Homo sapiens: one gene and its partners. The protein of the gene in region 1 interacts with the protein of each later gene in a pairwise test. Each region holds a gene or a part of one and is shown in the gene's direction. Other genes may lie near its edges.

Region 1 (8,190 bases):
ACCCTGTCTCTACTTAAAATAAGTTTTCTTTGTTTTGTTTTTTTCTTTTTTAGACAGAATCTTGCTCTGTCGGTCAGGCCAGAGCGTAGTGGTAGAATCTCAGCTCACTGCAATCTCCGCCTCCCAGGGTCAAGCGATTCTCCTGCCTCAGCCTCCCAAGTAGCTGGGCCTACAGGCAACCACAGCCACATCCAGCTAATTTTTTGTATTTTTAGTAGAGATGGGGTTTCACCGTGTTAGTCAGGATGGTCTCGATCTCCTGACCCCGTGATCCGCCTACCTCAGCATCCCAGAGTGCTGGGATTACAGGCGTGAACCACTGCACTTGGCCTAAAATAAGTTTTAAAAAGTATTGTTCTTGGCTGGGCGCGGTGGTTCACACCTGTAATCCCAGCATTCTGGGAGGCTGATGCAGGTGGATCACGAGGTCAGGAGTTCAAGACCAAGCCTGGCCAACATGGTGAAACCCCATCTCTACTAAAAATACAAAAATTAGGTGGGCGTAGTGGCGCGTGCCCATCATCCCAGCTACTCGGGAGGCTGAGGCAGGTGGATCACGAGGTCAGGAGTTCGAGACCAAGCCTGGCCAACATGGTGAAACCCCATCTCTACTAAAAATACAAAAATTAGGTGGGCGTGGTGGCACGTGCCCGTCATCCCAGCTACTCGGGAGGCTGAGGCAGGTGGATCACGAGGTCAGGAGTTCGAGACCAAGCCTGGCCCACATGGTGAAACCCCATCTCTACTAAAAATACAAAAATTAGGTGGGCGTGGTGGCATGTGCCTGTCATCCCAGCTACTCGGGAGGCTGAGGTAGCGGTGAGCCAAGATGGCACCACCGCACTCCAGCCTGGGCTACAAAACGAGACTCTGTCTCAAAAATAAATAAACACATAGATAGATAGATAAGTAGGTAAATAAATAGATAAATAGGTAGATAAGTAGATACATAGATATACAGATAGGTAGGTAGATAGAGAGAGACAAAGAAGTAGGAAGATAGATAGGTAGGTAGGTAGATAGATACACAGATAGATAGAATTGTTCTCAACACACTGCATACAAGTTTACAGAGCCAAGCAGCTCTAAGATGTGACACTCACAATCCCGTTCCTACCTGAGGCCCCCGAGCCGCACTGTCTCATCTGTGCACCCGTATCTAGCTAAACTATCTGGGTAGCTGTGTTTCTGTTTGGGACAGAGTCTTGCTCTGTCACCCAGGCTGGAGTACGGTTGTGCGATGTCGGCTCACTGCAACTTCCGCCTCCCAGGCTGAAGTGATTCTCGTGCCTCAGCCTCCAGAGTAGCTGGGATTACAGATGCCCACCACCATACCTGGCTAGTTTTTGTATTTTTATTAGCGATGGGGTTTCGCTATGTTGGCCAGGTTGGTCTTGATCTCGTGACCTCAAGTGATCCACCCACCTCAGCCTCCCAAAGTGCTGGGATTACAGGTAGCTACGCTTTTCGGAAGCTCCCCTCAAGACTCAAAGTGGGAACTGAGTGCTCAGGTGGGGACAGGTGCACAGAGCACACACAGGACAAGAGGCCGGAGGGAAACTGGCCCTGGCCCTCCTAAAACAACATCCAGGAGCAGCTGCACCAGCCCACAGTGCTATGGGTTCTGGGGCCCAAACAAGGGCCTTGTGTTTCCCCTCAGCCTGTCAGCAGAGAAAGCTGCGCCACACTGGCCCACACCAGGGTGTCACCAGGCGGCTGGCTGAGTGCCAGGAAATGACCTGCAGCTGGCCCAGGGCAGCAGCCGCAGAGGCAACGGCCATTCTTTTCTCCCACATCCACAGACAAGGCCCTATTCTTCCCTCTTCCTCAGTCCCCTCAGCCCCAAGCACAGGCTTAGAAAAAGACTCGACGGCTGATGAGCGTGTCTCCACAGAAACTGCTGGAACAGAGCCCTGCTCACAGAGGAGCAAGAGGCGGAGACAGGCTGGCCGCCCCTCCCTGCTCTCTGGATGTGGTGAGCAGCCGCAGGCAGAAGCCCCAAGCTCTGCTCCTTCTCACACCACACCCCAGCCACCACCTAGAGCAGTGGAGACATTCACTTTCTGCTGAAAACCCTGCCCCACTGAGGAGCACACATCCTGGTCTAGCACCAGCAAGAGGTGCCTCCTACCTGGGGCCCTGCAAAGGGGCAGGCTTGGCTGAGGTGGGAAGCCCGACCTGGGCCCCACCGCGTCGCTGTCCGAAGGAGGCTGGGCCACATCCGTGCTGGGCAGGGTCTTGGTCTCAGCCCCAACTGGGGTCCCTGTCCCTCTACCCTGGGAGGTCTGAGGGGCATCCCCAGGGTTCCACCCTCGGTGCTGGGGCAGCCGTGGCGCCGTCTCTTTGTCCCATGGCCACTTGACTGCCAGCGCACTGTCCAGCAAGAAGGCCTTGCAGCTGGAGCTGGTATCCATGGTGTAGTCGTGGCCCTGGTCGCAGCCCCACACGACCTGGATGACGCCGCAGTACTCGGAGGACAGTGTCCTCTGAAGGTGGGGCAGGGCCCCGCAGCTGGCCGCATGTCCATGCACCCACCCCACCAAGCCGTGCAGGCACTGGGGGCTGGATGTGATCAGATCCACTGCAGAGAGTCAACAGAGATGTCAGATCCACGGCTGGTCGGCACCCAGCCCACCCTCCACCGGGGGAGGACTCACCCAGACACGCTCCCTCCTCTGCCCCTGTTGGGGGCTGGGCACCGACCCTGCAAAGGATCAGTGTGGCCATGAGCAGGACAAGCAGGCGGAGGTTCACAGCGCTCGTCGTACGGGACCCTCTCGAGATCTCAAACCTCAGCGGTCCCCATAGGCAACTTTCTCTTCCCTCACCCCAGCTCCTCCCAGTTCATCTCTCCACAACAGTCCCAGGGCTGTTGGCACTGAACCCGGGCATGGCCCATTCCCCCCACCCAGAGGCTCCCGCGGAGGCACGCCCTGTCCCTCTCTCAACACCCGTCACACTGCAGTACTGACAGCCTGAACGTGCTCTGAACAGACTAGGGCGTACTTTGCACAAGGCTTCCGGCGACCAGCCGGGGAGGCGTTGACCCTCTGCAGGAAGGACTTGAGAAGGCTGTGGCACTGGTAGAACTGGGCGTGGCAGCTCTTGCAGACAAACGGAGACAAGGTGGGGTCCTGGCGGACAGCCACACCAAGCAGGCGCTGGAAGTCCCGTACGAGCACGCGCTCCTCTGCGGATGGCCTCTCCATGCTCGCTCCAGGCGCCCTCTCGGAGATGCTGCGCAGGCTTCTCGAGGAAAACTTCCCGTGGCAGAGGCGACAGTGACCCATGGCGAGAGCCCGGCCTGCTCCTGCACAGAGCGGCAGGAAGTGTTAGCAGCTGGCAAAGGAGGCTCCTGAGCACAGGGCGTCCCGGACTCCAGGTCCGAGGGCAGCGCCTGCAGCGCCCTTCGCGCGGCTCCCGGACACAGCAAGCGGCTCGGGCGCGCGGCTCTCGGCGGGACAAGCCGCCCTGTGGGGGATGTGGCCGCTGGTCCAAGAAATCTTTCAAATTTCAAAGGCCTCTAAGGCCTCTCCAGCGAAGCAACTTCAAGAGTGAAACCTGGAACTGCACCCTCCTCCCAGCGACCGCGAGACCCGGGGCAGGCGCTGCGCCCTCCAGGAAACGCCGCGGTTTCCTGTCTGCCAATTGCAGGTGCCGCCTCCTTTCCGGCTCCGCGAGGGCACGAAGCAGGGGAGGGCGATTCCCACGCGCGGGCACCCCAGGGCGACCTGCCCGCGGTGACAGCGCTCCTCACGCCGGGTCCCTTCTGGCCGAGCCCGCGGCCGGGGAGGCCGGGCCGGCGACGCCGGCGTCACGGAGCGCGAGGAAAACCGAGCCGGCCGCCCAGCGCCTATCCCGACGCAGCCCCGAGTCCGCTACGCCCTTGGCCGGGTGGAGGAGAGGCCGCGCCGGCTTCCGGGCGTCAGTGCGGCTCCTCCCACGAGCAACCCCTGCCGCGACCCCAACCCGCCACGCCCGGGCCGCGGACCCACCTGCCTCGTCCGCGCCGTCCTCGCCCGCGTCCCCGCAGGACCCCACCGGGCCCCAGGCGCGCCGCGCCGTCGCCCCGTCCACCCTCGGCCCACCGCTAAGGGAAGGGCGGCCCCGAGTCCGGCTGACGCCGCCGCCGCCGTCCGAGGCCCCGCACTGTCGGGACGACCCAGGAGACAGGAAGCGGCCCAGCCGGTCCCGCTTCATGGCAGCGGAGGACGCCAGCAGAATCCCGCGGGTGCTGCCCGGCCCGAGGTTCCTAGAGGACCCGGCGTTAGGCTCCGCTCGGCGCGCTGGAAGCGAGGCGGGGCGGGGGAGGGGCGGAGCGAGAAGCAAAGCGAGGCGGGCGGGGCGGGCCAGGGGCCAGGGGCGGGACCCCGCCGGCCGAGGTTCCACCCGCGGTGCCAGCGCCCCCGCTCGTACCGCTCCCCTCTCGGGCCCGAGGGCGGCCGTGCCCGCCTCTGTCGCCAATGGAGCGCTGGCCTGGGGCGGGGCGGTGGGCGGAGGGGCTCGCCGACACCTCACGACGAGTCCTCCAGGGAGAGGCGACGCGGCCCTCACCGCCTCTTACCGTGGGAGACGGAGGCGCGGGGCGGGCAGGCGCCGGCGGAGGCCACGCGGCGCGCAGGTGGCGGGCGGGCTGCAGAAAGGGGAGGGGGGCCGGGGTCTCACGTAGAGAGGGGCCTGGCTGCCGCGGTTAGACGCCCATGGCAACTCCGTGAGGGGCCCTTCTCGCCAGCCCCGTCTCAAGACGGCGAAGAGGCCCGGCTCCGTCGCGACAACCCACCCGGACTCTGCCGCCCCCGCCACTAACACCCGTGGGGCCCGCAGTACGCGCGGAGGGGGCCCGTCGCCGGAAGTGCGGCCGCGTCCCTTCCTGCGGTCCGCTGCTCGGGCGGCTCCAGCACCAGCGCCGGCTGCGTTCCGGGCCTCCGGTCGCCCGTCCAGCCCCTCGGCTACCGCCGCCGCCTCCCCCGCTCGGCGCCATGGCCGCTGCGGCCGGGGACGGCACGGTGAAGCCGCTGCAGAGCGCCATGAAGCTTGCCAACGGGGCCATCGAGCTGGACACCGGCAACCGGCCCCGGGTGAGGCGGGGCGGGGGCGGGGCTTGGCCGCTGAGGGTGGCCCCTGGAGGGACCCCCGCCCGGGGAGGGCGAGGACGGGGCCGGCTCGGGCTGGAGACTTGGGAGCGGGCGCCAGCCGGGATCCCGGGCCGCGGTTCCCGGGCGAGGACGGGGGCGGGGCGCAGCCGGGCGTGCAGTGACCTTGGACAGCTCAGATCCTGCGGACCTTGGCTTTCCACTCCGCTCGCTGAGCCGGTGCATCACAGCCTGGGCTCCACCTGTAGAGGAGATGTAGCAGGAGGGTCCGCCAGGCCACCTTCCAAAATCCGAGTGACGGGCAGGTCCGTGCGTTCGTGCATTTTTCTGGGCAGAGATGGTAGATTTAATCCGGTTGCCACAGGGGACGGCATGCAGAGAAGGCCACATACCTGCTCATTTGTGATGCTGTTTGCAGTCGTCTTAGGAAGGAAAAGCAGGCCGGAGGGGTGTGGCCCGTTCCTGAGATGGGGCCGAATCTAAGGTTGGCGACCAGGTAGAGAAGCTGGCCCAGCCACACCCGGCTGCCCAAGGAGGGAAGGAGCCTGCCTGTGCCTAGGAGAAGCCTCGTTCCTGAATCTGCTGCTTTCCCCAAGTTGGTTTTTAGGGCAGCAGGTGCCCCCGCAAGTCAGAAATCCTGCCTGGATTATATTTCGTCTTTCTCTCTGAGGCATAGACTTAAAGATAGGAAACTTAACAGCTAGGGATAAAACAAAAAAACATAGCATATTGCTGGGCGCTGTGGTTCACGCCTGTAATCCTGACACTTTGGGAGGCCCAGGCGGTGGATCACCTGAGGTGAGGAGTTTGAGACCAGCCTGGCCAACGTGGTGAAACCCCGTCTCTACTAAAAATACAAAAATTAGCTGGGTGTGGCGGTGCACACCTGTAATCCTAGCTCCTTGGGAGGCTGAGGGATGAGAATCACTTGAACCCAGGAGGCGGAGGTTGCAGTGACTCGAGATCCTGCCACTGCACTCCAGCCTGGGCGACAGAGTGAGACTCTGTCTCAACAAAACAAAACAAACCACCATTCTGTGGTTCCAATGACCTGTGCCTTGTCAGAGGGGTCACACAGCCTTGAAAGGTAACAGTTCTAGGCTCCTGTGTGCACTGGAAATACGTAACTCGCAGGTTCTGGGAAAGGGATTTCTCGGAACTTAAACCGGGAAGTGATTTGAAAACTTCCAGTATCACTCCCTTTATCCTCTCAGAAAAGTATTTTTTTAAGCCACTGAATGAATCACCCTTGAGTTGCACAAGAAGGAAACATTGCATAGAATGAAAAATGACAGCAAACTGCTGAGGTCACTTCCCCAGGCCCACTGAATGAGAATATCAGTTCCTGTGCTGGAGAGAAAGGCAGTCAGAGGAGAAAATGAGGTCCAGCTCGTCCCTGGCTCTCTCTCTCTCTCAGGTCCTGATGTCTTTTCCAAGTCTGGAGAGCAGCGATGCTGCCTGTGCCCTGCGCAGAAAACCGTGTTCCGGCTGCAGCTAACCACCGCAGGCTCAATGTCTCTGGGTGTATCTCAGAGATAAGCAGGTGGTGGTGTTCCTTGCTTATCCCACAAGGGCACCTGGCCGGAATAATGGAGTCACTTCCCTCCACTGGCCTGACCCCACTCTTTCTCTTTCCTGGACACAGGAGGCATACACGGAATACCTGAGGAGCATCCACTATATCTCCCAGGTGTTACTAGAAGAAGTGGAAACCACTAAAGGTACGGCTCAGCCAGCCGGGCGCGGTGGCTCACGCCTGTAATCCCAGCACTGTGGGAGGCAGAGGCGGGCTATCACCTGAGGTCAGGAGATCGAAACCATCCTGGCTAACATGGTGAAACCCCGTCTCTACTAAAAATCTAAAAAATCAGCTGGGCCTGGTGGCGGGTGTCTGTAGTCCCAGCTACTCGGGAGGCTGAGGCAGGAGAATTGCTTGAACCCGGGAGCAGAGGTTGCAGTGAGCCGAGATCACCCCATTGTACTCCAGCCTGGAACAAGAGCGAAACTCCGTCTCAAAAAAAAAAAAAAGAAAAGAAAAAGAAAAAGGCATGGCTGAGCCCTGCTGCTTCCTCCATGCTGGACAAATTGTGGGCATCCTAGCCCTTGATGGGTGCCAGGCTTCGGCGGGGGTCTCTTGTATCCTTCTAGCCTGACCATTTGTAGTAGGTGGACCAGCCCACACTCAGTGTGATATAGTGGCAGGAAGGGACCAGCGTTGTGGATAAGAAGATGGAGACTGGGGTGTGGCAAGACACTGGCTCCAGTGAGCGGCACAGACGTGGGGCAGCATTCCAGCTGTGGGGTGTGCAAAGGCCCTGAAATAGGAGTGGGCGGGGTGGGGCTGTGTGCATGCCTTGGGTGGAACTGGGGCCGTTCTGGTGTGCAGGGAAACTTGAAGAGACTTTGAGCTTTGAGGGAGAGGACAGCCTGGGAGTGGAGCCTCAGGTGAGGACTGAGGATGGCAGTGGCCAGACCACCCAGGATGGGAGCAGTAAACGGCCTCGGGGTGCGTCCTGAAGGTGGAACAGAGCAGACTTGCAGGAGGCAGATGGGGCAGGAGCAAACTGGCAAGGAGAGGAATAGCAAGTTCCGCAATGAACACATTAAGTTTGAGAGGCCAGCAGCCGCTGCACAAAGGATCACAGAGGTCAGGGGGAGCCACTGGACATAGAGCACAGAGGTCAGGGGGAGCCACTGGACGTGGGATCACAGAGGTCAGGGGGACCCACTGGACGTGGGAGCACAGAGGTCGGGGGAGCCACTGGACGTGGGAGCACAGAGGTCGGGGGAGCCACTGGACGTGGGAGCACAGAGGTCGGGGGAGCCACTGGACGTGGGATCACAGAGGTCGGGGGAGCCCCTGGACGTGGGATCACAGAGGTCGGGGCAGCCACTGGACGTAGGATCACACAGGTCAGGGGGAGCTAACAGTTGCCCCAGCTCCCTAGGGAGCCGGTGAGCTCGGCTGAGCTCTGGCGCTCCAAGATTGAGGAGTTGGGTGGAGGAGTGGCAGAGGATCCCCTGGGGAGAGCAAAGTCCCAGAAGACAGAGGAACTCCAGTGGCCCACCGTGTCTGGCAAGGTGGGGACGGGTAAGG
Region 2 (7,315 bases), on another chromosome or scaffold:
TGGGATTACAGGCACCCGCCACCACACCTGGCTAATTTTTTTTTTGTATTTTTAGTAGAGACGGGGTTTCGCCATGTTGGCCAGGCTGGTCTTGAACTCCTGACCTCAGGTGATCCACCCACCTCGGCCTCCCAAAGTGTTAGGATTACAGGCATGAGCCACCGTGACCAGCCTAAGATGGCTGTTATCAGAAAGGGAAGAGACATGGCCGGGGGCAGTGGCTCACACCTGTAATCCCAGCACTTCGGGAGGCTGAGGCGGGCAGATCACAAAGTCAGGAGATTGAGACCATCCTAGCTAACATGGTGAAACCCCGTCTCTACTAAAAATACAAAAAATTAGCCGGGCGTGGTGGCGGGCGCCTGTAGTCCCAGCTACTCAGGAGGCTGAGACAGGAGAATGGTGTGAACCCAGGAGGTAGAGCTTGCAGTGAGCTGAGATCGCGCCACTGCACTCCAGCCTGGGTGACAGAGTGAGACTCCGTCTCAAAAAAGAAAAAAAAAAAAAAAAAAAAAAAAAAAGAAAGGGAAGAGACACACATTGGTGAGGGTGTGGAGAAAAGTGAACTCTTCTACACTGTTGATGGGAATACAAATTGGCGCAGCCATTATGCAAAATGGTATGGGTGTATTTCAAAAAATTAAAAGCTACCATATGACCCAGTAATTCCTCTTCTCAGTATATATTCAAAGGAAATGAAACCAGCACCTTATAGAGACTACTTGCACTCCCATGTCCATTGCAGCATTATTTACAATAGCCAAGATTTGGAAACAACATAAATGTCTGTCAGTGGATGACTGGATAAAGAAATTGTGAGCTGATCACAGTGGCTCACACCTGTAATCCCAGTACTTTGGGAGGCCGAGGCCTGAGGATCACTTGAGGTCCAGAGTTCGAGACCAGCTTGGGCAACATAGGGAGACCTCATCTCTAGAAAAAATGTATAAATTATCCAGGCATGATGATGATGGCATGCACCTGTGGTCCCAGCTACTCAGGAAGCTGAGGTGGGAGGATTAATTGAGCCCTGGAGGTTGAGGCAGTGCCACTGCACTCCCACCTGGGTGACAGAGCAAGACCCTGTCTTGAAAAAACGTAAGATGTATTTCTCATGTATATCTTGTATATATATATCTCACATATATGTATCACATATATGTATATATAAAAGAATATTATTCAGCTTTAAGAAAGAAGTAGGTCCTGCCATTTGTGATGACATGGATGAAACTGAAGGACATGATGTTAAGTGAAATAAACCAGACATCAAAAGAAAAATACCACATGCTGTCTATGTAGAAATCTTAAAAAAAAAATGTTGAATACATAAAAAGAGAGAATAGAACAGTGGTTACCAAGAGGTGGAGTGGGGGTAGGCCTGGAAGAAGAATGAGGAGATGTAGGTCAAAATGTACAAAATTGCAATTGTGTAGTATGAATAAATGTAGAGATCTAAAGTACAGCATGAGGATGATAGCCAATAAGATTGTATTGTGTACTGGAAAATTTTTAAGAGAGTAGATTTTAGGTGCTCTTACCATACAAAAGTAACTGTCTAAGATGATGGATATTGAAATTGCTTACCTGTGGTAAGCATTCACTATATATATCAAAACATTATATGCATCTTCAATTTACACAATAAAAAGTTAAATCTTGACCCTGAGCTCAAAAATTCATAATATAACTGTTAAGCCATGGAACTGCTGTGTGGTAGGACATCAGGATATATTCAGCTTCTGTTTCTGACAAAAATTCACAGAATTGATGGTCCAGTTTACAAGAGTGAATGAAGGTCACTGTTGACACTGCTGGATCAATAACACATAATAGATTCAAATACTTTCACAGAGTAGCTGCTGTTGAGTAATATGATGAACACTTCCCGGCTTTAAACACTATTTTCTCATGAGCTTTGTAAATTTGTTCAGCTCAGCCTTTTTCTATTCCACATGTATTTTTATCACTGTCAGCTATGACACATCTTAGCAGATTTCACTGCAGGTTGTATTGAATCAGTGTTTCTACACGACTTTGAAAATGCTCTTGTCTGTAATTGTTCCATGAAGACTGTATTAGTCCATTTTCAAGCAGCTGATAAAGACATACCCAACACTGGGAAGAAAAAGAGGTTTAATTGGACTTACAGTTCCACATTGCTGGGGAGGTCTCAGAATCATGGTGGGAGGCGAAAGGCACTTCTTACATGGTGGCAGCAAGAGAAAATGAGGAAGAAGCAAAAGTGGAAACCCCTGATAAACCCATCAGATCTCGTGAGACTTATTCACTATCGTGAGAATAGCACAGGGAAGACCAGCTCCCATGATTCAGTTAACTCCTTCTGGGTCCCTCCCACAACACTTGGGAATTCTGGGAGATACAATTCAAGTTGAGAATTGAATGGGGACATAGCCAAACCATATCAAAGACTATTCATAGAGGTTTGGTTTTTCAGTCACTTCAAACTCAGCATTGACCCTTTCCATAAACAACAACTGAGCAGTGTTGGGAACATCTGTCTGCTTATCAGGAGCCAAGGAAAGCCACTCAGAATCATGTGCCTTGTTATTAGTTGACTACTGATGTTGCTCCCAGTGTCAACTCTGAGCAGCTGCTCTCACCAAAAGGCTAAAATCTTAGACAAGTTTGTTTTTTCCTGGACACATTTTTTTTGGCCACTGAAATAAAACATGTTTTAATTCACTCATCATTGGTAAATATCTTTCCTTGCTTTCATAACAAATGAGCCTCTTGGAACCCTACTTTTGTTGCAGACTTATTTTCATTTTTAATTTTTGTAAATAAATTCTGCTGTGATAATTCTGTTTTTGTTATTTTTATTTTTTTAAGACAGAGTCTCGCTCTGTCACCCAGGCTGGAGTGCAGTGGTGCGATCTCAGCTCACTGCAACCTCTACCTCCCAGATTCAAGCAATTCTCTTGCCTCAGCCTCCCAAGTGGCTGAGACTACAGGCACCTGCTACCACGCGTAATTTTTTTTGGTATTTTTAGTAGAGACAGGGTTTCACCATGTTGGCCAGGCTGGTCTTGAACTCCTGTCCTCAGGCCTTCCAAGTGCTGGTATTACAGGTGTGAGCCACCATGCCCAGCCAATTCTGTTTTACATTTTCTAATTTTTTTTGGCCTTTGTGCTCTGTGAGCTGGGACTATTGTGATGAGTGCTTAGTCTGGTAATGTTGATATTTATTATATTCTTTTGGTACAGTGGCACTGTATAGCAAGAAACATGTTTTGCCATTTAATTTGATGACAAAATAATACACACTCTAGTGTGCCTTAAAAGTGCGACATTCAAAATTCACTATTTTTCTTTTTTTTTTCTCAAAATTTTGTTTAGAGATGGGGGTCTCGCTATGCTGCCCAGGCTGGTCTTGAACTCCTGGCTTCAAGTAATCCTCCTGCCTCGCTCCTGAGTAGCTGGGATTACAGGAATAAGCCACCCATCCCTGGCTTTCTTGTTTTGACATAATGGATATAATTTTTTTAAATGTCACAGTATAGTGATACCATGGCACTCCAAACACTGCTGTTACAATGATGTTACTGCGGTTTGTAGTGTGCTGGGCAGCCAGGCAAAGTGGTGAGTGCACCACATGTGGTCTCTGTTATAACTACTACACTCTGCTATGGCAGCACAAAAGCGCTCGTAGACAATACGTAAACAAATTAGCATGGCTGTGTTTCAATAAAGCTTTAAGGATGCTGAAATTTACATTTCATACCGTTTTCCTATGTCATGAAATATTATTTCTTTTAAATTTTTTCTATTTAAAAATGTAAAAGCCATTCTTTCTTTGTAAGCTATAAAAAACAGGAGGTGGGTTGGCTTTGGCCCACAGGCTTTATTGCTGAACCCTATTCTAGTGTGACAGATATGCTGAGTTGGGAGCAAATATATTGTTGGTTAGTAATGATTTCAGATGATATTCTTTTTTCTTCTTTTCTTTTTTTTTTTTTTTTTTGAGAGGGAGTCTTACTCTGTTGCCTAGGCTGGAATGCAATGGCACAATCTCGGCTCACTGCAACCTCCACCTCCCAGGTTCAAGCGATTCTCCTGCCTCAGCCTCCCGAGTAGCTGAGATTACAGGCATGTGCCACCCTGCCCAGCTAATTTTTGTATTTTTAGTAGAGACAGGGTTTCACCATGTTGGCCAGTCTGGTCTCAAACTCCTGACCTCAGATGATCTGCCTACCTTGGCTTCTCAAAGTGCTGGGATTACAGGCATGAGCCATCAGATGATATTCTGAAGAGTTTCTCACCCACTCTTCCACAACCAGTGTGTGGCTATTTGAAGACCCATCTATGCTTAAAGAAATTTATCTGGAAAATTGTTGCAATCTCATTTGTTACTTTAAGAAGAAAAGGGAAAATAATTTTGTACAAATTGTGCTTTCTATAATTTGCAATTAAGGAAGATTAAAATCTTTTTTAAAAATTTTATGCTTCAGGAAGCATTTGTAGAAACTAAAGTATTAGTTGGATGTGACCATGTATTGTAAGTTTCTGAAATGAAGGTGGGTATAAACTTAATTATCTTGCAATTAATCTAACTGTAATATGACATATTTCTGAATATTCAGCAACAGCTGGCATTGCAGCTAGAGTTGGAAATGCAAGAAAAGGAGAGGCAGAGAATACAAGAACTACAGAGAGCTCAAGAACAATTAGGCAAGGTAATTTGAAGTTTTATAAATGTCAGTTTTATTTAAAACTCTCTAGAATCTTCAAACTGTTTATTTCAGCTGTTAGCAGAAGGACCATGGGATTTGTAGTCTGAAGACATGCCACATACTAGCTGTGTAAGCTAAACAAGTCTCATAACCTTTTTCAGTCTCAGTTTACCTGTTTCAAAACTAGAGCTAGCAGTATAATACTATTAGCAATGTCTCACTGGTTCCTTTTTTTTTTTTTTTTTTTGAGACGGAGTCTCATTCTTGTTGCCCAGGCTGAAGTGCAATGGCACAATCTCGGTTCACTGCAACCTCGGCCTCCCAGGTTCAAGTGATTCTCCTGCCTCAGCCTCCCGAGTAGCTGGAATTACAGGCACGCACCACCACGCCCGGCTGATTTTGTATTTTTGGTAGAGACAGGGTTTCTCCATGTTGGTCAGGTTGGTCTCGAACTCCTGACCTCAGGTGATCCACCCACCTTGGCCTCCCAAAGTGCTGGGATTACAGGCATGAGCCAGCGCCCCTGGCCGTCTCACTGGATTCTTATACAATCAAATACAATCATGTTTGTGAAACTTCTCTGTGAGCAGTAGGGTTCTCTAATAGTGATACCCTCAACATTTTAGTCAGGAGTTAGCTGTTCCTAGTTACAGTAGCTGATGTTGAATATTGAGGGTATTCCAATCTCGGAGGCAGTAGTATATGTCTTTATGTTAATGTATTAACAACAAGAATTTACATTTTAAAATATGTTCATACATGGACTTTCATTAAAATAAACTATGCAGTAACTTTTTTCTTTCTTTCTTTTTTTTTTTTTTTTTTTTTTGAGACAGAGTCTCACTCTGTCACCCAGGCTGGAGTGCAGTGGCGTGATCTCGGCTCACTGCAACCTCCACCTCCCGGGTTCAAGCAATTCTCGAGCCTCAGCCTCCCGAGTAGCTGGGATTACAGGCACGCACAACCATGCTTGGCTAATTTTTTGTATTTTTAGTAGAGATGGGGTTTTGCCATGTTGTCCAAGCTGACATGATACAATCATGTCAGGTCTCTAGTTTGACCCATATTTCCTGCATCCAAAAGCTATGAGTCATATAGACCAATATTCTAGATGACTGAGTTTATAGCTACTATCTCTTAATCAAATGTTTCTCCCCCTTTTTATTCCATAATTAAAGCTGAAAAAAGAAGCAGGTTTTATAGACAATGTTCATTATGTTTATTGATGCTTAGATGAGAGAATCATTTATTAAAGCAATATTTAAAAAGTGTGAATGGTGAATTAAATCAAAAAGTGAGATTTTTTTTAAAAGGATAAAAGCCCTATACATAGTTTTAAAAAATACAGATGCTGATGCGGTCTTAGTCTGAGTGTAGTGTGAGCACAGGGATATGCCTGTATGCACACATACACAAGCAGCCCCTTTCTCTTTAAGATTCACAAAGAAATAATGTTTAAGGTGATGGATATCTCAAATATCCTGATTTGATCATTACATATTGTATGCTTGTATCAAAATATCACATGTACATCGTAAATATGTACAGCTATTTATATCAGTAAAAATTAAAAATTAAAGAAATTTTGAAAAAGATTCACGGATCTAAACTGAAAGAGAAAATACAGGAACATATCAAGAAGGCAGTGATCAAAATAAAGGAATTTAAAGTATTTTTAATCAAAGTGACCTGATAGCTACATTAAAGTGCTTCAAAGTCCATAGGAAGGATTGGTCTCTATTTTATGGCTCCAGAGAGCCACACTCATGTTATTTTACTATCTCCAGACATCATCAGCTTGTGTGACCACTGCCAGAATAACTTTAGTAATTCCTATTTCTATAGGCTTATCATCCCTCACCATAGCATAGGTAGTCCCCTGCAAAGTACCACTCCCTCGCCCATTGCTCAGAGATGAGTCCACTCATGTGCTTTCCCTTGGCCTTCTTATGGCTGCAGACTCGCAATGTAAACTATCATGTGCAAAGGGAAGTTTGCTAGAAGGATTCTGGGTTGAAGGAAGGGTTTAACACATAAACTGTGAAGGACTCTGGTATCACTGGGCCTTTCAGACTTTGGGAGCAAGAGAATCAGATGCTACCAGGGCTCTCCCCTCTGCTGCTCCCTGGTTATTAGTTTCGCTCTTTCACTATGGGCTGCTTTGCTGCACATGGGTAGGGAACATGGGCCTTAACGGCTTCTGAGGCTTAGAATGTTGTGGCTTCTACCATCTAAGAGGAATGGATGCCTTGTTTTAGTTTCAGTTAAGAAAAGAATCTTGGAGAAGGATTCTGACTGGCTTAGTTTGTGTCAAATATCCATCTCTGTGGCAGGGGAGCATAGTCCTATAAGAATATGGATGTTCCCCATATAGCCTTGTGGATGCTGGATAAGAAGTTACCAGGAAAATGGAGTGGTCTTGGGAAAACAGTGCTGTTTATGTCCCTATCATTAGGGTGACCATATGTATGATCAAGAAATCACTGGTCTTCTAGCAGCCAAAACGAATCAGCTCAGGGTCAGTTAGGCCACCCTGCTGCTTTAGAATGAAAAGGTAGATGGCATAGCAAGGTTTGGCTGACTAGAAGAATGTTTCACATTCAGAAAGAGGCCTCCCTTAT
Region 3 (8,185 bases), on another chromosome or scaffold:
GTTGAAGTCCTGACTTGAACAGTCCCAGTACATCCCAAATGACCGTATTTGGAAATAGGGTCATTTTTAGATATAATTAATTAACATGAGGTCATGCTGGATTGGTGTAGGCCCTTTATCCAATATGACTGGGGTCCTTATAAAGAGCGGAGAAGAGGCCAGGCGTGGTGGCTCACGCCTGTAATCCCAGCACTTTGGGAGGCCGAGGCGGGCAGATCACGAGGTCAGGAGATCGAGACCATCCTGGCTAACATGGTGAAATCCCATCTCTACTAAAAATGCAAAAAATTAGCAGGGCGTGGTGGCGGGCGCCTGTAGTCCCAGCTACTCAGGAGGCTGAGGCAGGAGAATGGCGTGAACCCAGGAGGCAGAGTTTGCAGTGAGCTGAGATAATGCCACTGCACTCCAACCTGGGCGATAGAGCAAGACTCCATCTCAAAAAAAAAAAAAAAAAAGAGGAGAAGAGAGAAAGAGACAGAGACACACAGGGAGAATTCCAAATGACAACAGACGCTGAGATAGGAGTGACTGTCTATAAGCCAAAGAATGCTAGGGTTGACCAGTAAGCACCAGAAGCTGGGGAGAGGCAAGGAATAGATTCTCCTCAAGAGCACCCACAGGGAACAAACTGAGCTGACACCTTGATTTTAGACTTTCACTCTCCAGAGCTGTGAGAGAATAAATTTCTGTTCTAAAACACTCAGTTGTGGTACTTTGTTATAGCAGCCTCAGGAAACAAATATAAATATTAGGAAACAAATATAATATTTTGCATATAAATTGCATTTTTAGCTTTATGTATTAAATATATGGTTGGTGGAATAAGCATTTATAACAAGACATAACCCAGTTTCAATTATTTTTCCTTAAATCACATCTTATTTTAATTCATTACAAATACACTGCATTACTAATCCAAATTGTAGAAGTCTGAAATTTCTTTAGAAAAAATATTAATTTGCTGGTAATAAGCATTTTTTTGAAAATGTCTCTACCTTGAAACAAAACACAGCTACTTAAATAGTCTTATTTTCTCCTGCCTCTAGTTTTTAGAGGCAGTAAAGGGAAGTGGTTAAGACCTTTGCCTTAAGAGACCATCAGGATTCAAGTTCTGATTCTGCTGCTTCCTAGCTACTGTATGGGACCTTAGACAAGTTACTTGGCTATGGTGTCTCAGTCTCCGAAATAATAAAAGCATTAATCTCTTATGGTTGTTGGGTCAATTAAAAGAATTAATACATGTCAAAGTCTCAGATGGTTATTGTCTCATAGCAAGGGCTATAGCCTGAATGTTTGTGTCACCCCCACATCAAATTCATATGCTGAAATCCTAACTCTTAAGGTGATGGTATTCGGGGGTGAGGCTTTTGGAAGGTGATTAGGTTGTGAGGGCAGGGACCTCATGATTAGGATTGGTGTCCTTATAAAAGAGACAGCAAAATGCTAGCTAGCTCCTCCCACCATGTGAAGACACAGTAAGACCCTTTCTATGGACAAGGAAATGGGCCCTCACCAGACACTGAATTCGCTGGCACCTTGATCTTGGACTTCATAGACCCCCAGAACTATGAATAATACATTTCCATTGTCTTTAAGCTAGCTAGTTTATGGCATTTTGTTATAGAACCCTGAATGGACTTTGCCAGTGAGCTATTCAACACATGCTACATATTAGTCTCTCTTTTTTAAATTTTTTAAATTATACTTTAAGTTCTGGGATACATGTGCAGAATGTGCAGGTTTGTTACATAGGTATATACGTGCCATGGTGGTTTGCTGCACCCACTGACCCATTAGTCTCTTTCTTTTTACTACTTGTAACTTCCTGCCATGAATAGACTGCATAAAACAACTCTGACCCATGACTTACCCGATCACAAACATTATGTAGTCCTCCAACACATATATAAACATGTTAAACATCATCCAACTGTTGACCCCATCCAACATTCTGCTATTTTTCTCCATTACTTTATATTTGTTGAAGTACCACCCTCCTTTAAAACCCAGCTCATATTTTATATCCTACTGATAGTCTTCGTAGATCACCCACGTATGACTTCTTCTCACTCCCTCTCCTATATTCCCATAGCACAAGGGTGAAGCTCTTAAACACAGCATGCCTTGGAGTTATTTGTGCATACTATGTCCCATTTGGTAGACTATCACCTCCAGGAGAGTAGGGTCTGTACCTTTTCAACTTTGTATCCCCTATAGTACCCAGCAGAGAATTTTACACTTAGTAGAGCCTCAATAAATGGTTGTTAAACTTGGTTGAACCCACATATTTTTTTTTCTTTGTGGCAGATGCCCTAAGACAAAACATAAAATAAATGAATTACTTTTCTTATTTCCATTGCAATATATATGCCCTGGGCTAGTGGGTATTTGCAAGCCTGGTTTAGAACTTAGGGAAGTCATCAATCTAGGAAAGGAGAGGAAATACATTTTAAATCACAAAAGCAATATAGCCTTATATAAGGCCTTCTTAGCAAAGCAATTATCAATGGCTCAATAACCCAGGTGCTAGTGTTATTATGAACAAAAGTCTGAGGCTGAGAGACAATGAGTGATCTTAACTTTTATATTCCATAGGTATGCAACTCAATGGAACATGTACAGATGGAAGGTTTAGATCTGAGAATCATATCTGTGTATTACAATGCAAATAACTGACCATCCTTCTAAAGAACATCTGTTGAAACATCTGAAAGCAGTTGTTTATACGGCTGCCAAAATGCTAAAAAATATAATAATTCTCCAGTGAGGTTAGAAATATCCAGGGGAAGAAAAATACTTTTTTATGTAGTTCTGCTTTATTAAATCTTGTTGTTTTTTCTCTAATATGGCACATAGGAGATGCTCAATAATATCTGTTGAATGAATAGCAGAAACTCATTAAACAGTTGTTGAATGAATCATCTCTGTTTTTTTAGACTTATAAGGCACATTTTCAGAAAACTGTATGCCCAAGTTTTACCACATTGTATACCATTTTTATTTGGCATAAATTTAAGTACTGCTGCTCTTGCCCTGAACATTATAAGATGTAATGAGCACGGATATCTATAAGAAAAACTATCTTTTAACACTACAGAAAATGTATAAATAAACCTAGATATACAATAGCAGTATTTTTAATTATCTTAATATGTCACTTTTATTATTATGGGACACTTAAACTTTGAGTTGTGAGCTCATATGAATCATATTCGCTTCAAAAAACAAAATAAAATTTAAAATTCCTGCTAACGTGTATAGTTATGATACCTCTTAGAAGATTGTAACTTTGGATTTAAAAGCACCAAAATATTCTGGTATGTGAAGAAGAAGACTGCAGAAGATGAAGAAGCCATTTCTCCCCATACCCCCTTTCTTGAATTTCCAGCAGCTCTTTCTTCCATACTCCTGTGTAAGTGAGGCAACTGCACTCCCCAAAGACTGCCCAAATTTTACTCTGCCAGGTTTCAGCACAGAAAGAGCATGTTAAATAATACATGTGAATTTGAGTGTAACTAATAAAATTGGAACGTTAAATAGCAGCATGTTTTTGAAAACCAGCCTCCTTGTGATGACGTTCCTTGTGCAAGTCCATGGGAAATAATTCTGAAGGGAGTGTTATTAATTAGTAATGTAATTTATCTTCTGGAAGCCCTTTCCTTTGATGGCCGCTGTGGTACAGTTTATAAGCCTCCAAACAAGTGCTCAAAGAAAACTGTTCAAACCACAATTTCAGCTTTGTTTTCACCCTTGAACAGATAAGAGTAAAACTTATTTTGGTATATCTAAATTTTACACATGCCTCTTTATGGTGGAGGATTATGAAGTTATAAATATATATTTATGAAGAGTTTTTAATGAAATGGTAAAATGTCTGGGATGTAATAAGAGGATAAAATAGTAGACTCCAAAATTAAATTCATGGCTTCTGATTCCAGATTTCTTGGTTTCAGTTCTCACCACCCTATATGAGGTACGCAACTATGGCAATATACTTAATTGTTCCGTGCCTCAGTTTCCTCAACTACGCTATGAAGGTGATAGCAAAAATTATCTCAAAAGGATATAGGGTGTTCAAAATAGTGCCTGGCAAATAATAACAAATTATTATTATTACTGATTCACAATAATTTCAAATTTATAAAGGAAAAATGAAGAGTGAGGAGGGTTACCTTGAAGGGAATTGGTAAAATGTTAATATGTACTTCTAAATGACATGATTATGGGCAGTTCTTTTCTGCTTTGTATACTTTTCAGTATTTATTCTTTTAAAATAAACTCAAAGAATTAAGTTTTATGCATCAATGGCTTGATGGAAATTAAGGCGGAAATTTGGAATAGGTTAAAATGTATAACTGATTAGACTGCAGCATTAATGAAATATTAATTAAGCCTATTGTGATGTGACAGAATTAACATTTACCTTATTTTACTTAATTTTAAGTACATTCTGACAAATTACTTTTTAAAGTTCAACCAATGTCAATTTTACATTCATAAAGTCAAATGTTTATTTTACTTAATTTTAAATACATTCTAACAACAAATTACTTTTTAAAGTTCAACCAATGCCAATTTTACATTCAGAAATAAAGTCAAATGTTTATTATAATGTCAATATTTCAACCTACTAAAACTAAAAATATTTTAATTTTTGATTTAAAAAATCCCACGCAGAAGTCCCAAAGGTGCCTTTCATGTTTAAGCTTTAATTAGCAACCACTTTGGTCTCTGACACATATTGCGCAGATATTGAAGTGTTAATATTACTGCAGCTTGATTACAAAAGGCAATGATTAATTTTAAAGCAGACAAAAAAGATATGCCCTGATTACAAAGGAATGATTAAGGCGGAATGTCAGACATTGCACATTTATAGCAGTCTTTGCCATCGTCAAAGTATAAGACTTTGTAAAAGTTTATATTTAGAATCACAGTTACTTTGTACTTTATAATATTCAGTGTTTGCGCCTTGGATACCGGGCAACCCTACTCCAACTGGGCCTAAGACCTTTGGGGTTCACATGCCCAGGGCAAACCTGCCCCCCACAGGATGGTCCCAATGAGCCGCCGTAGTTTAAGTTCTCACAGGCAAGGCCCGACCTGAAGCACTGGCTCCAGCCTTAGGGAAGGTTTTGGCCGTGGGTTTTGTTGGCACGTACCATTTTGCTGAAAGACAGAGCACCTTGAGGACGTTATCCCTAAAATGAGAGAGGACTGGGATTGAAAGGCTGACTACAGAAATGGCTGCTGCCCAGACGCCCTCAAAAGCCAAGGTCTTGGCAGCCTTTTTATTTGCCACCAAAGCGAAAAACAAACCCAGGGAGGGACGGAGGCCTGAGTCAGGGGTTCCGCCAGGGAAAAAGGCAGACCTTGAAACTGCCCTCTTAGGGCGTGAGGGAGAAAAGCCCGGTTTGTAAACTGTAACGGGAAACAAAGGCTGAGGGCAGGAAGGGGCAGCAGCGGCCAGCGTCCCTAGACCCTCAGACCCCTCAGACACCGTCTGGCGTCGGGCTCCATCTTCTTGCTGGGCTGGCGACAGAGGGTTGGAGACAGGTCTATCTGGGAATGGTTCTAGAAGAATCCATCTTCTTTATTCTGCTTTCCAGGATCCTCAGAGTTGGTTATAAAATATTTAAGGGCGAGAAAAGGATCGCAGGAGCCAGGCCCTGAGATGAGCTTGGAGTCCCTGTTTCAGCACATCATCTTCACCGAGCATCAGGCGGAGGAGAGTCGCCGTTTGATGCGAGAAGGTCGGGGTATTTCTGTCCTTTGCATGGGGCCTTTTGTCTTCTGATGCTGGGTGCTTGGAGCAGAAGGAAATCCCGAAGGCAGTGGTCAGAGCCGTTAGGGGAGCTTGCATGCCATGCTGAGGGAAAGACAACTGAAAGGTGGCTTATCAAACGCCACCAAAATGGGGACTTTAGAAAGATTGATGTGTTTAAAGATTTAATTTTTATTACAGTAAGGTCGGAAATAACCAGATGTCGTGAAAAAATTAAGAAAGCAACGGAGGAGCTGAATGAAGAGAAAATCAAGCTGGAATCTAAGGTATTGAAATGTAAAGCATACTAATTATCACTTGAAAAAGCCTGCCTTAACTTGACTTTTGGGGGATATTTCAGTGTTTAACCAGTTGTCCTTCAAGTAGGAAGCACGTTACTCTGTGCTGGCTGTTTTAGTTCCATGTTGCCTGGTGATGTTTAAAGTTCTGAATCCCGTGACACCTTCAATTCCAAGACGAATTTGCCCTAAATAAACTAAGGTAATGAAGAATTCATTGTCCATTTTGTGGGATGGTTAAGGTTTTAAAAGAGCACAATGTCATTAGAAGAATCATTATTCCACTTATTTAATAAGTAGTTGGTGCAGTATATACATTTTGAATGATAAATAATTTGTGTGCTATGTTGATATAACAATTGCATGTAAATTTCAAACAAGCCCCTGCCTTTAGTTTTAAAAGTCTCTACCACATTTTAGACATGCCTTGCGTCCGAAGTATACCTTTTCCATTAGCGTTTCTCTCTTTCCTGCAGCGTTTGTAATGTTCTGTTATTTTAAAAAGAAGCAAGAGAGTCTGATGGCTTCTTGAAGGATGGATAGAATTTTGAAGAGGCAAATAGAAGGAAGTAGTAGGAGGAAAGCGTTCCAGACAGAAGGAGGAGGCAGATATGTGCAGTGCATATTGGGAAAGGAATCTAGTCAAAGCAAAGGGCTGATATCTGGGAATAGCAGAAAACCGTTGCAAGTTCCTGATCAGGGAGCAGTAAAAGTGGGTTTAGGTAGCCTAGTATGGTGGCACATGCTTGTAGTTCCAGTTACTCAGGAGGCTAAGGTGAGAAGACAGTTGTTCAGTTTAATGCCAGCCTGGGCAACATAGTGAGACCCTGTCTTTAAAAATAAAAGGTAGTTTTAGGAGGATCTTTCTGAGCTCTGATTGGGAAGATGGGAATAGACTATTAGGAAGCTAAGAATATTATTTAAGTGTGCCACAATGAAGGCCTCGCTATGGGTGGGGACAGAGAGTTATTCAAAAATATTTATTAAGTACCCAGTGATGAACTAAACAAGCACTGTGTAATATGAAGTCTGTTTGAGGAAGTCTGTCTGCTTCAAATATAACTATTTTAACTTACCACTTTGAGGAATTTTCAGTTTTCTTTGGGAATGAAACAATCAGAGAACACTTCTCCATCTGGCGAATTTCAGCTTTTCTTTCCAGGTGTTGCTCAAACATCACCAATAAAGCCTTCTTTATTTATACAATATTTATTATTTATACAATAAAGACATCTTGGTAAAATTTTAAAATTAAACAATGATACATACTTGTATTTGTGTTTGTATCCCCCACTATTTTGTGAGCTGCGTATCTGGAATTTTTTTCCTTATCCATCTTTTATTCTCACTGCCTGTTATCTAACAGTATATAGTATACAGTAGTGTGTTGAAAGAATTGAGTACTAATAGTTTGATAGATAATAGGGAGAGTCTTTTAAAATAGAATTTGTAACGGTTATTCAGTGAGATCCTTCCTCCTGTTTTGCCTGTGAATAGTAGGTAAACTAGCTGCTACCAGCAATGCTGAAAGCTGGTGGTATGGGCAAAACATTAAGAATGTTATGATGCAACTTTCTTTCTCTTGAAAAGGAATTAAGACACTTTCAGGATTGATATCTAGAAGCTAATAGAAGTAATGGGCAAAATATGAGCACTTACTGTATGCAGGGGCACTGTTCTAAATGCTTCTCCTGTATTAACTCCTTTAATCCTAACAGGAATCTTGTGATGAGACCCCATCATTATCCCCTTTTTATGAGTGAGGAAACTGAGAGGTAAATGACTTGTCCACGATATATAATTCAGAAACAATTAAACTACCATAATGAAAGTAACAATTGAGTAATAACAGCATATTTTATTAAAGCAGATTTCTTAAGCTCACTTTAAACATTTTTCGTCATGACATTCATGTATAATAATATAACTGAAGTTTTGTATCTTGTTTAGGTTAATATTTTTAAAAGGTTGCTTATACAAGTTTTTGTACAAAATGCATTTTTCCTGGATTGGTGAGGATATTGACCTGATATAATATATTTTTTAATGTTACTCTGTAATATTTTCTTTGTTAGCAAAGTTTTGTTTTGTCTGCAAATGGAAATGTAATTTGTTGATATAT
Region 4 (7,315 bases), on another chromosome or scaffold:
ATAAATGACACACACCCATAATGCTATCATCACTTCTTGCTTTCCTGGGCTAAGAGAAATTGTGGAATACAGAGCTTAACGACAATTTATGTAGTTATATAAGTGAGTTATATTTATCAGACTGGAATGTAAAGGTGCAAAAAAGAGTAGCTATTTTTAAAACCTGTATTTGATTTATTGCTACTGCCATGAAGAGGCCTTTAAATAAGCATTAAGTTACACTTGGTTCAACTTTGTTTATGAATAAGAAATTTCTTAAGATATTTCAAATTTCATGTCCTATTAGGGGGAAATATTTTGCTCAATTAGAATTAACGGCTAATTTATTAAAAATACCAAAAAGTCAAAAACAACACAAATATTCATCAACAGAAAAATATAAATTGTGATATACTACTCAGAGTAATACACACTGTTGATATACACTACAGCCTGGGTGAATCTTAAAAACATGTTGAGTAAAAGAAGGCAGACACAAAAGAGTTAGGTACTGTACAATTCCATCAATATGAAGGTCAAAACTAATCTGTGGCAATAGAAATCAAAGTAGTTGTTTCCTTTGAGCTTGGAAGGGTATTGACTAGAAAGGGGCACAAGGGGACTTTGTAGATAGTTTCTATATCTTGATTGGCAAGTTTATTTCTCAAAATTCATTGAACTCTATAAACACTGCATTCAACTAAATGCAATGCAATTATGCTTCAATTTTAGAAGTTAATGGTTTATTCCTATATAATCCCAATTAGCATTGGTACCAGTCTGCCTTTTATACAAATTTATACACATTTCTGTCTCCTTCATATGTTATCTTTGCATTTGTTACATAGTTTTTTTGTTGTTGTTGTTTTTCTTTTTGAGACAGAGTCTCACTCTATCACCCAGGCTAGAGTGCAGTGACGCGATCTCAGCTCACTGCATGCTCCGACTCCTGGTTTCACGCCATTCTATTGCCTCAGCCTCCCGAGTAGCTGGGGCTACAGGCGTCTGCCACCATGCCCGGCTAATTTTTTTTGTATTTTTGGTAGAGACGGGGTTTCACCATGTTAGCCAGGATGGTCTCGATCTCCTGACCTTGTGATCTGCTCACCTCAGCCTCCCAAAGTGCTGGGATTACAGGCATGAGCCACCAGGCCTGGCTGCTTTTTTTTTAATGGATATTATAAGCTCAGTAAATGTATATTGAGGCAAACTGAATTCCATTTTAGAGCCAATTTGGGGAATTCCTAATCAAGGATGAGCAAATTAGGTTTATCTAAAACTCACTTTAAAAAAGCTAAAACAAGCTGCGCACGGTGGTTCAAAAAAGCTGAAGGTATATGGACTTAATATTACATGTAGTGAAAAAGCTATTAAGTGTCAACAGAAATAGGAATCTCTACTCTTTGAGATAGTTTAATAAGAAGATGTATGAAAATAAAAGGAAGCCCTAATACAAACAAGATGTAAACCAACCATTTTCTGGATATTTGTCTTGATAACTGAATTCTGTGTTACAACAGAATTCTATTCATTGAAGAAGACACCTTTAGAAGTGTCTTACTACCCATTTTTTTTGTTTTTTTTTTTTTGAGTCAGTCTCACTCTGTCGCCCTGGCTGGAGTGCAGTGGCACGATCTAGGCTCACTGCAACCTCTGCCTCCTAAGTTCAAGTGATTCTCCTGCCTCAGCCTCCCAAGTAGCTGGGATTACAGGCAAGTGCCACTACATCCGGCTAATTTTTGTATTTTTTGTAGAGATGGGGTTTCACTACGTTGGCCAGGCTGGTCTCAAACTCCTGACCTCAGATGATCTGCTCACCTCGGCCTCCCAAAGTGCTGGGATTACAAGCGTGAGCCACCGTCTTACTACCCATCTTTTTTTGAGACTTATGCATGAGTCTATTCTCTGACAAGCCTGGCTAAGATTGGTTTCTCCGATGGAGTAAAGATTTTTACTGAAAAGAAAAATGAGCGGGTAGCCAGAAGCAGTGGCTCATGCCTATAATCTCAGCACTCTGAGAGGCCGAGGTGGGAGTTCAAGACCAGCCTGGTCAACATGGTGAAACTTCGTCTCTACTAAAAATGCAAAAATTAGGTGGGCATGGTGGTGCATGCCTGTAGTCCCAGCTACTCGGGAGGCTGAGGCAGGAGAATCACTTGAACCCAGGAGGCAGAGGTTGCAGTGAGCCAAGATCACACCATTGCACTCTGGCCTGGGTGACAGAGTGAGACATCATCTCAAAAAAAAAAAGATGGGGGACAGCCTGTATTATTATGTTTTATGTCTTTTAGCTATGTGTCTGTGTTTTAAATTTTTATTATTAAATAATTCAGAACAGGGATAATCATCGGCAGTTTGACATCCTATACAGCAAGGCCTGATATTCACTTGTATGAACCAGAAAGGCTGTACTGACTGTTAAACTGTTAAGATACTGTATTTACATGCCAGTTGCAGCATAGTCGCTACCCTGAGCCTCCCAAGTACACTCCTGCTACACTGGCTAGCCAGTCTGTCTCCAACAACACCCAGCAACCGAACCTTTGAAACAGACACACCAGACCCTATAACTGTATGCCTGCAAATCAGATAATCTCAATGAAATGAACACATTTCTAGAATAACATGAACTATGGAAACTCACTCAAGAACAACTAGAAAATCTGAATGAACCCATAATAAGTAAAAATACTGAATTGGAGCTGGGTGCAATGGCTCATGCCTGTAATCCCAGCACTTTGAGAGGCCGAGGTGGGCAGAACACCTGAGGTCAGAAGTTCGAGACCAGCCTGGCCAACATAGTGAAACACCATCTCTACTAAAAATACAAAAATTAGCCGGGTGTGGTGGCACACACCCGTCGTCCCTGCTACGCAGGAGGCTGAGGCAGGAGAATCACTTGAACCCAGGAGGCAGAGGTTGCAGTGAGCTGAGATGGGGCCACTGCACTTCAGCCTGGGTGACAGAGCGAAACTCGTCTCAAAAAAAAAAAAAATCGAATTGGGAATTTGAAATTTGCCCCTGGCCCCGCCCCCCTCAGAAAAGAAAAAAAGCTCAGATTCAGATGGCTTCATGGTCAGTTCTACCAAAAGTTGAAATAGGAATCAATACCAATGCTTCACAAATTCATACCAAAAACTAGAAGAGAGGGAACACTTCCCAACTTATTCTGTGAGGACAGATTTTCCTTAGTAGCAAGATAGAGAAAAATATCACAAGGAAAGCCCAATACCTCATGTGAATCTAGCAAACACAGCAATCCTCAATTAAATACTAGCAAACCAGTTCCAACCACATATAAAAAGGATTATACACCATAAACAAGTGGGATTCATCCCAACTATGCAATATTGGCTTAAAATCTAAAAATCAATATATTGTAATATATTTACAGAATAAAAGAAACAACATAGTCATCTCAATAGATGCAGAAAACTCATTTGACAAAATTCAATATTCTTTCATGTTAAAAATAATAAACTAGGAAGAGAAGGGAACTTTTTCAGCCTGATTAAGAGCATTATGAAAAACCCATGCCTAATATATGGAATGCTGAAAACTAATTCCTCCCTCCTAAGGTCAGGAACAAGACAAGGATGTTTGCTATATCCACTTACATTTAATATTATACTGGAGGTTGTAGCCAGTGCAATGTGTCAAGAAAAAAATAAAAGGCATCCAGATTGGCATGGAAGAAGTAAAACAAGCTCTATCTTAAATTACTGATCTTGTATGTAGGAAATCCTAAAGAATCCACAAATAAAGCTATTAGAACAAATAGGCAAGCACATTTGCAGGATACAAGATAAATACTCAAAAATCCTGTGTTATTCTGTACATTAGCAATGAACAATCCAAAAATGAAATCAGACCAGGCACAGTGGCTCCTGCCTGTAATCCCAGCACTTTGGGAGGCGAGGTAGGTGGATCACTTGAGGCCAGGAGTTCAATACCAGCCTGGCCAACATGGTGAAACTCCATCTCTACTAAAAAATACAAAAAACTAGCTGGGCATGGTGATGCGCACCTGTAATCCCAGCTACTAGGGAGGCTGAGGCAGGAGAATCACTTGAACTTGGGAGGCAGAGGTTGCAGTGAGCCAAAATTGCACCACTGCACTCCAGCCTGGGTGACAGAGCGCAACTCTGTCTCAAAAAAACAAAATACACAAACAGCAAAAAAATGATATCAATAACTCCATTTACAATAGAATCAGAAAATATTTAGAGATTTCTTAAAAAGAAATACAAGAATGAAAATTATAGCCGGGTGCGGTGGCTCACACCTGTAATCCCAGTACTTTGGGAGGCCGAGGCAGATGGATCACAAGGTCAGGAGATCGAGACCATCCTGGCTAACATGGTGAAACCCCATCTCTACTAAAAATACAAAAACAAAATTAGCCGGGTGGGGTAGTGGGCGCCTGTAGTCCCAGCTACTCGGGAGGCTGCGGCGGAAGAATGGCGTGAACCCGGGAGGTGGAGCTTGCAGTGAGCCAAGATCGCACCACTGCACTGCGCCTGGGCAACAGAGTGAGACTCCATCTCGAAAAAAAAAAAAAAAAGAAAGAAAATTATAAAACATTGTTCAAGGAAATTTTAAAAGACGTACATGGGAAGAAAACACATATTCATGGATTGGAAGATTTAATATTGATAAGATGCCAATACCTTTAAGTTGAAGTACAGATTCCACAGATTCACTCTCCATCAAAATTCCAGCTGGCTTCTTTGCAGAAATTGACAAGTTGATCCTAATACTAATATGGAAATTCAGAGAACCCAGAATATCCAAAACAGTTTTTCAGATGATGAACAAAGTTGAAGGACTCACACTTCCTGGCTTCCAAAGTTACTACACAGCTACGGTAATCAAGATTGTGTGTAGTAATGGCATATGACAGACTGTGTCTCCCCCAGATTCATATGTTGAAGCCCTAACCCCTAATGTGACTGTATTTAGAGATAATGCCTATAGGAAGGAGTTAACTAAAGTTAAACAATGTCATGAGGGTGGGGCCCTAATGTGATAGAACTGGTAATTTTATAAGAACAGAAATAGAGAGAGAGCTCTTTCTCTTCACATGCATATGCCAAGGAGAGGCCATGTGAAGACACAGAGAGATGGCAGACATCTCCAACCCAAGGAGAAAGCCCTCACGAGATACCAGTCAGGCCAGCACCTTATCTTGGATATGCCAGCTCCAGAACTGTGAAAAATAAATTTTTGTTGTTTAAGTTACCAATTTATGGTATTTTTTATAGTAGTCAGGCTGAATAACAAATAGCCATTTGGGTCAATGGAACAGAATGGAGACTCACATATAAACCTATACATCTAGAGTAAATTGATTTAAAATAAACATACCAAGACCATCTAATGGGGAAAGAATAGTTTTTGCAACAAATGATGCTGAGAAAACTGGAGATCCACATAGAAAAGAATGAAGTTGAACCCCTAATTCATTCCATATAAATAATTCAGAATGTTTCAGACGACTACATTTGTGAGACCTGAAACTAAAACTCTTAGAAGAAAACAAGGGTAAATCTTTAAGACCTTGGATATGGCAATGGATTCTTAGAAATAACACCAAATCCACAAGCAACAAAAGGAAAAATAAATTAATAGACCTCATCAAAATTAAAAACTTGTGTGCTTTACAAAAACATGTATCAAAAAGTCAAGACCATCAGTTCAAATGTGGGGCTTAAGAAAGAAAATCAAGTCTGGGCACAGTTGTTCATGCTTGTAATCCCAGCACTTTTGGAGACCAAGGCCGGAGGATCACTTGAGGCCAGGAATTTGAGACCATCCTGGGAAACATAGTGAGACCCCATCTCTACAAAATTCTTTTTTATAGCCAGACATGGTGATGCACACCTGTAGTCCTAGCTGCTCAGGAGCCTGAGGTGGGAAAATCACTTGAGCCCAGGATTTTGAGGCTGTGGTAAGCTGATTGTGCCATTGCACTCCAGCTTAGGCAACAGAGCAAGACCCTGTACCTAAAAGAAGAAAAGAAAAGAAAGTCAAAAGACAACCTACAAAATAGGAAAAAATACATCCAGTAAGAGATTCATCTAGAATATGTTAAAAACATGTTGGGAGCTCAAAAGGCCAAAGGGATCATGACCAACTAAGCATTCCGCTGGAGGCTATATGATCAAACAGCAAACTGTTTATCATGAATGCAGAATGTGGGCAAACTGATACTGCCCTGCCACCAAAAGGTTTGCTGAGGGCCTCACTCCCTGGCAGTGGGCTCCTTAAAGTTATCTATTGAGAAATCTAGCGCCTATTGTTTGAAGAATGCAGTCTTACAAACCTGCCGTGAATCAAACTGCTGACGACACCCACCCCCCACCCACCTCCACTTCTTGCTATCTCTTTTGCCTAATAAATATGGAGGGCTGTGTAAAGCTCAGGGCCCTTGTCCACTAGAGGCAAGGTGCCCCCGACCCCTTCTTCCAAATATACTCTTTTGTCTCTTGTCTTTTATTCCCGCGTTTGCCCCCCTTTATTCAGTCCCATAGGTCCGTGTGGGTTACACAGTGGCACCCCAAACAGCAACAGGATTGGGTGCTCTACAAAAACACATGTCAATAATAAAAAAGACAAATAATTGGCATTTCACCAAAGAAAATATACAAATAGCCAACAAGCAAATGAAAAGATACTCAACATCATTGATCATCAAGAAATAAATAATGAAAACCACAATGAAATAGCACTTTATGGTTGGGCACAGTGGCTCATACCTGTAATCCCATCACTTTGGGAGACTGAGGTGGGAGAATTGCTTGAGTCCAGGAGTTTGAGACCATTCTGGGAAACATGGCGAGACCCTGTCTCTACAAAATATACCAAAAAAAAAAAAAAAAAAAAAAATAGCCAGACATGGTGGCATGCACCTGTAGTCCCAGCTACTTGAGAAGCTGAGATGGGAGAATTCGTCGAGGCTTCAGTGAGCTGTAATCATGTCACAGCATTCCAGTCTGGACAACAAAGCAAGACCCTGTCTCAGAAAAAAGAAAGAAGGAAAAAAATACCACTTCACACCCACAATGATGGTTTGAAATTGGTGTTGACAAGGATATGGAGAAAGCAGAACCCTCATCACTGCTAGTGGAATTGCAAAGTTGTGGATCTGCTATGTAACAGTCTGATAGCTCCTCAAAATGATAAACATAAAGTTACTTGAACCAGCAGTTCCTTTCCTAGCTATACCCAAGAAAAATGAGCATATGTCCATGAAAAAATTTTTACATAAATGTTCATAACAAGCATTGTTTCTAATGTCAAAAATTGGAGACAACCCAATGGCCATTAGCTGTTT

The links.
Region 2: the proteins of VPS9D1 (region 1) and DYDC1 interact in binary tests that used the Homo sapiens proteins (3 or more experiments, as listed by UniProt).
Region 3: the proteins of VPS9D1 (region 1) and CCDC172 interact in binary tests that used the Homo sapiens proteins (3 or more experiments, as listed by UniProt).
Region 4: the proteins of VPS9D1 (region 1) and AAMDC interact in binary tests that used the Homo sapiens proteins (3 or more experiments, as listed by UniProt).

What each region holds. Positions count from the first base shown.
Region 1 is NC_000016.10:89,717,651-89,725,840, reverse strand, and holds the start of VPS9D1 (VPS9 domain-containing protein 1), read left to right. Parts: upstream 1-4,942; 5' UTR 4,943-4,979; coding exon 4,980-5,078; intron 5,079-5,258; exon of another isoform or gene 5,259-5,473; intron 5,474-6,457; exon of another isoform or gene 6,458-6,636; intron 6,637-6,738; coding exon 6,739-6,814; intron 6,815-7,318; exon of another isoform or gene 7,319-7,322; coding exon of another isoform or gene 7,323-7,395; intron 7,396-7,675; exon of another isoform or gene 7,676-8,190. Other genes in the region: ZNF276 (zinc finger protein 276), read right to left, coding at 2,132-2,581, 2,658-2,704, 3,007-3,310, 3,996-4,200.
Region 2 is NC_000010.11:80,339,651-80,346,965, reverse strand, and holds part of DYDC1 (DPY30 domain-containing protein 1), read left to right. Parts: intron 1-2,150; coding exon of another isoform or gene 2,151-2,183; exon of another isoform or gene 2,184-2,221; intron 2,222-4,604; coding exon 4,605-4,697; intron 4,698-7,315. Other genes in the region: DYDC2 (DPY30 domain-containing protein 2), read right to left, coding at 2,151-2,183. UniProt on the Homo sapiens protein: Functions as part of axonemal radial spoke complexes that play an important part in the motility of sperm and cilia. Plays a crucial role during acrosome biogenesis.
Region 3 is NC_000010.11:116,319,338-116,327,522, forward strand, and holds the start of CCDC172 (coiled-coil domain-containing protein 172), read left to right. Parts: upstream 1-5,110; 5' UTR 5,111-5,276; intron 5,277-5,308; exon of another isoform or gene 5,309-5,412; intron 5,413-5,609; 5' UTR 5,610-5,674; coding exon 5,675-5,753; intron 5,754-5,965; coding exon 5,966-6,051; intron 6,052-7,820; exon of another isoform or gene 7,821-7,838; intron 7,839-8,185.
Region 4 is NC_000011.10:77,824,144-77,831,458, forward strand, and holds part of AAMDC (mth938 domain-containing protein), read left to right. Parts: intron 1-7,315. UniProt on the Homo sapiens protein: May play a role in preadipocyte differentiation and adipogenesis.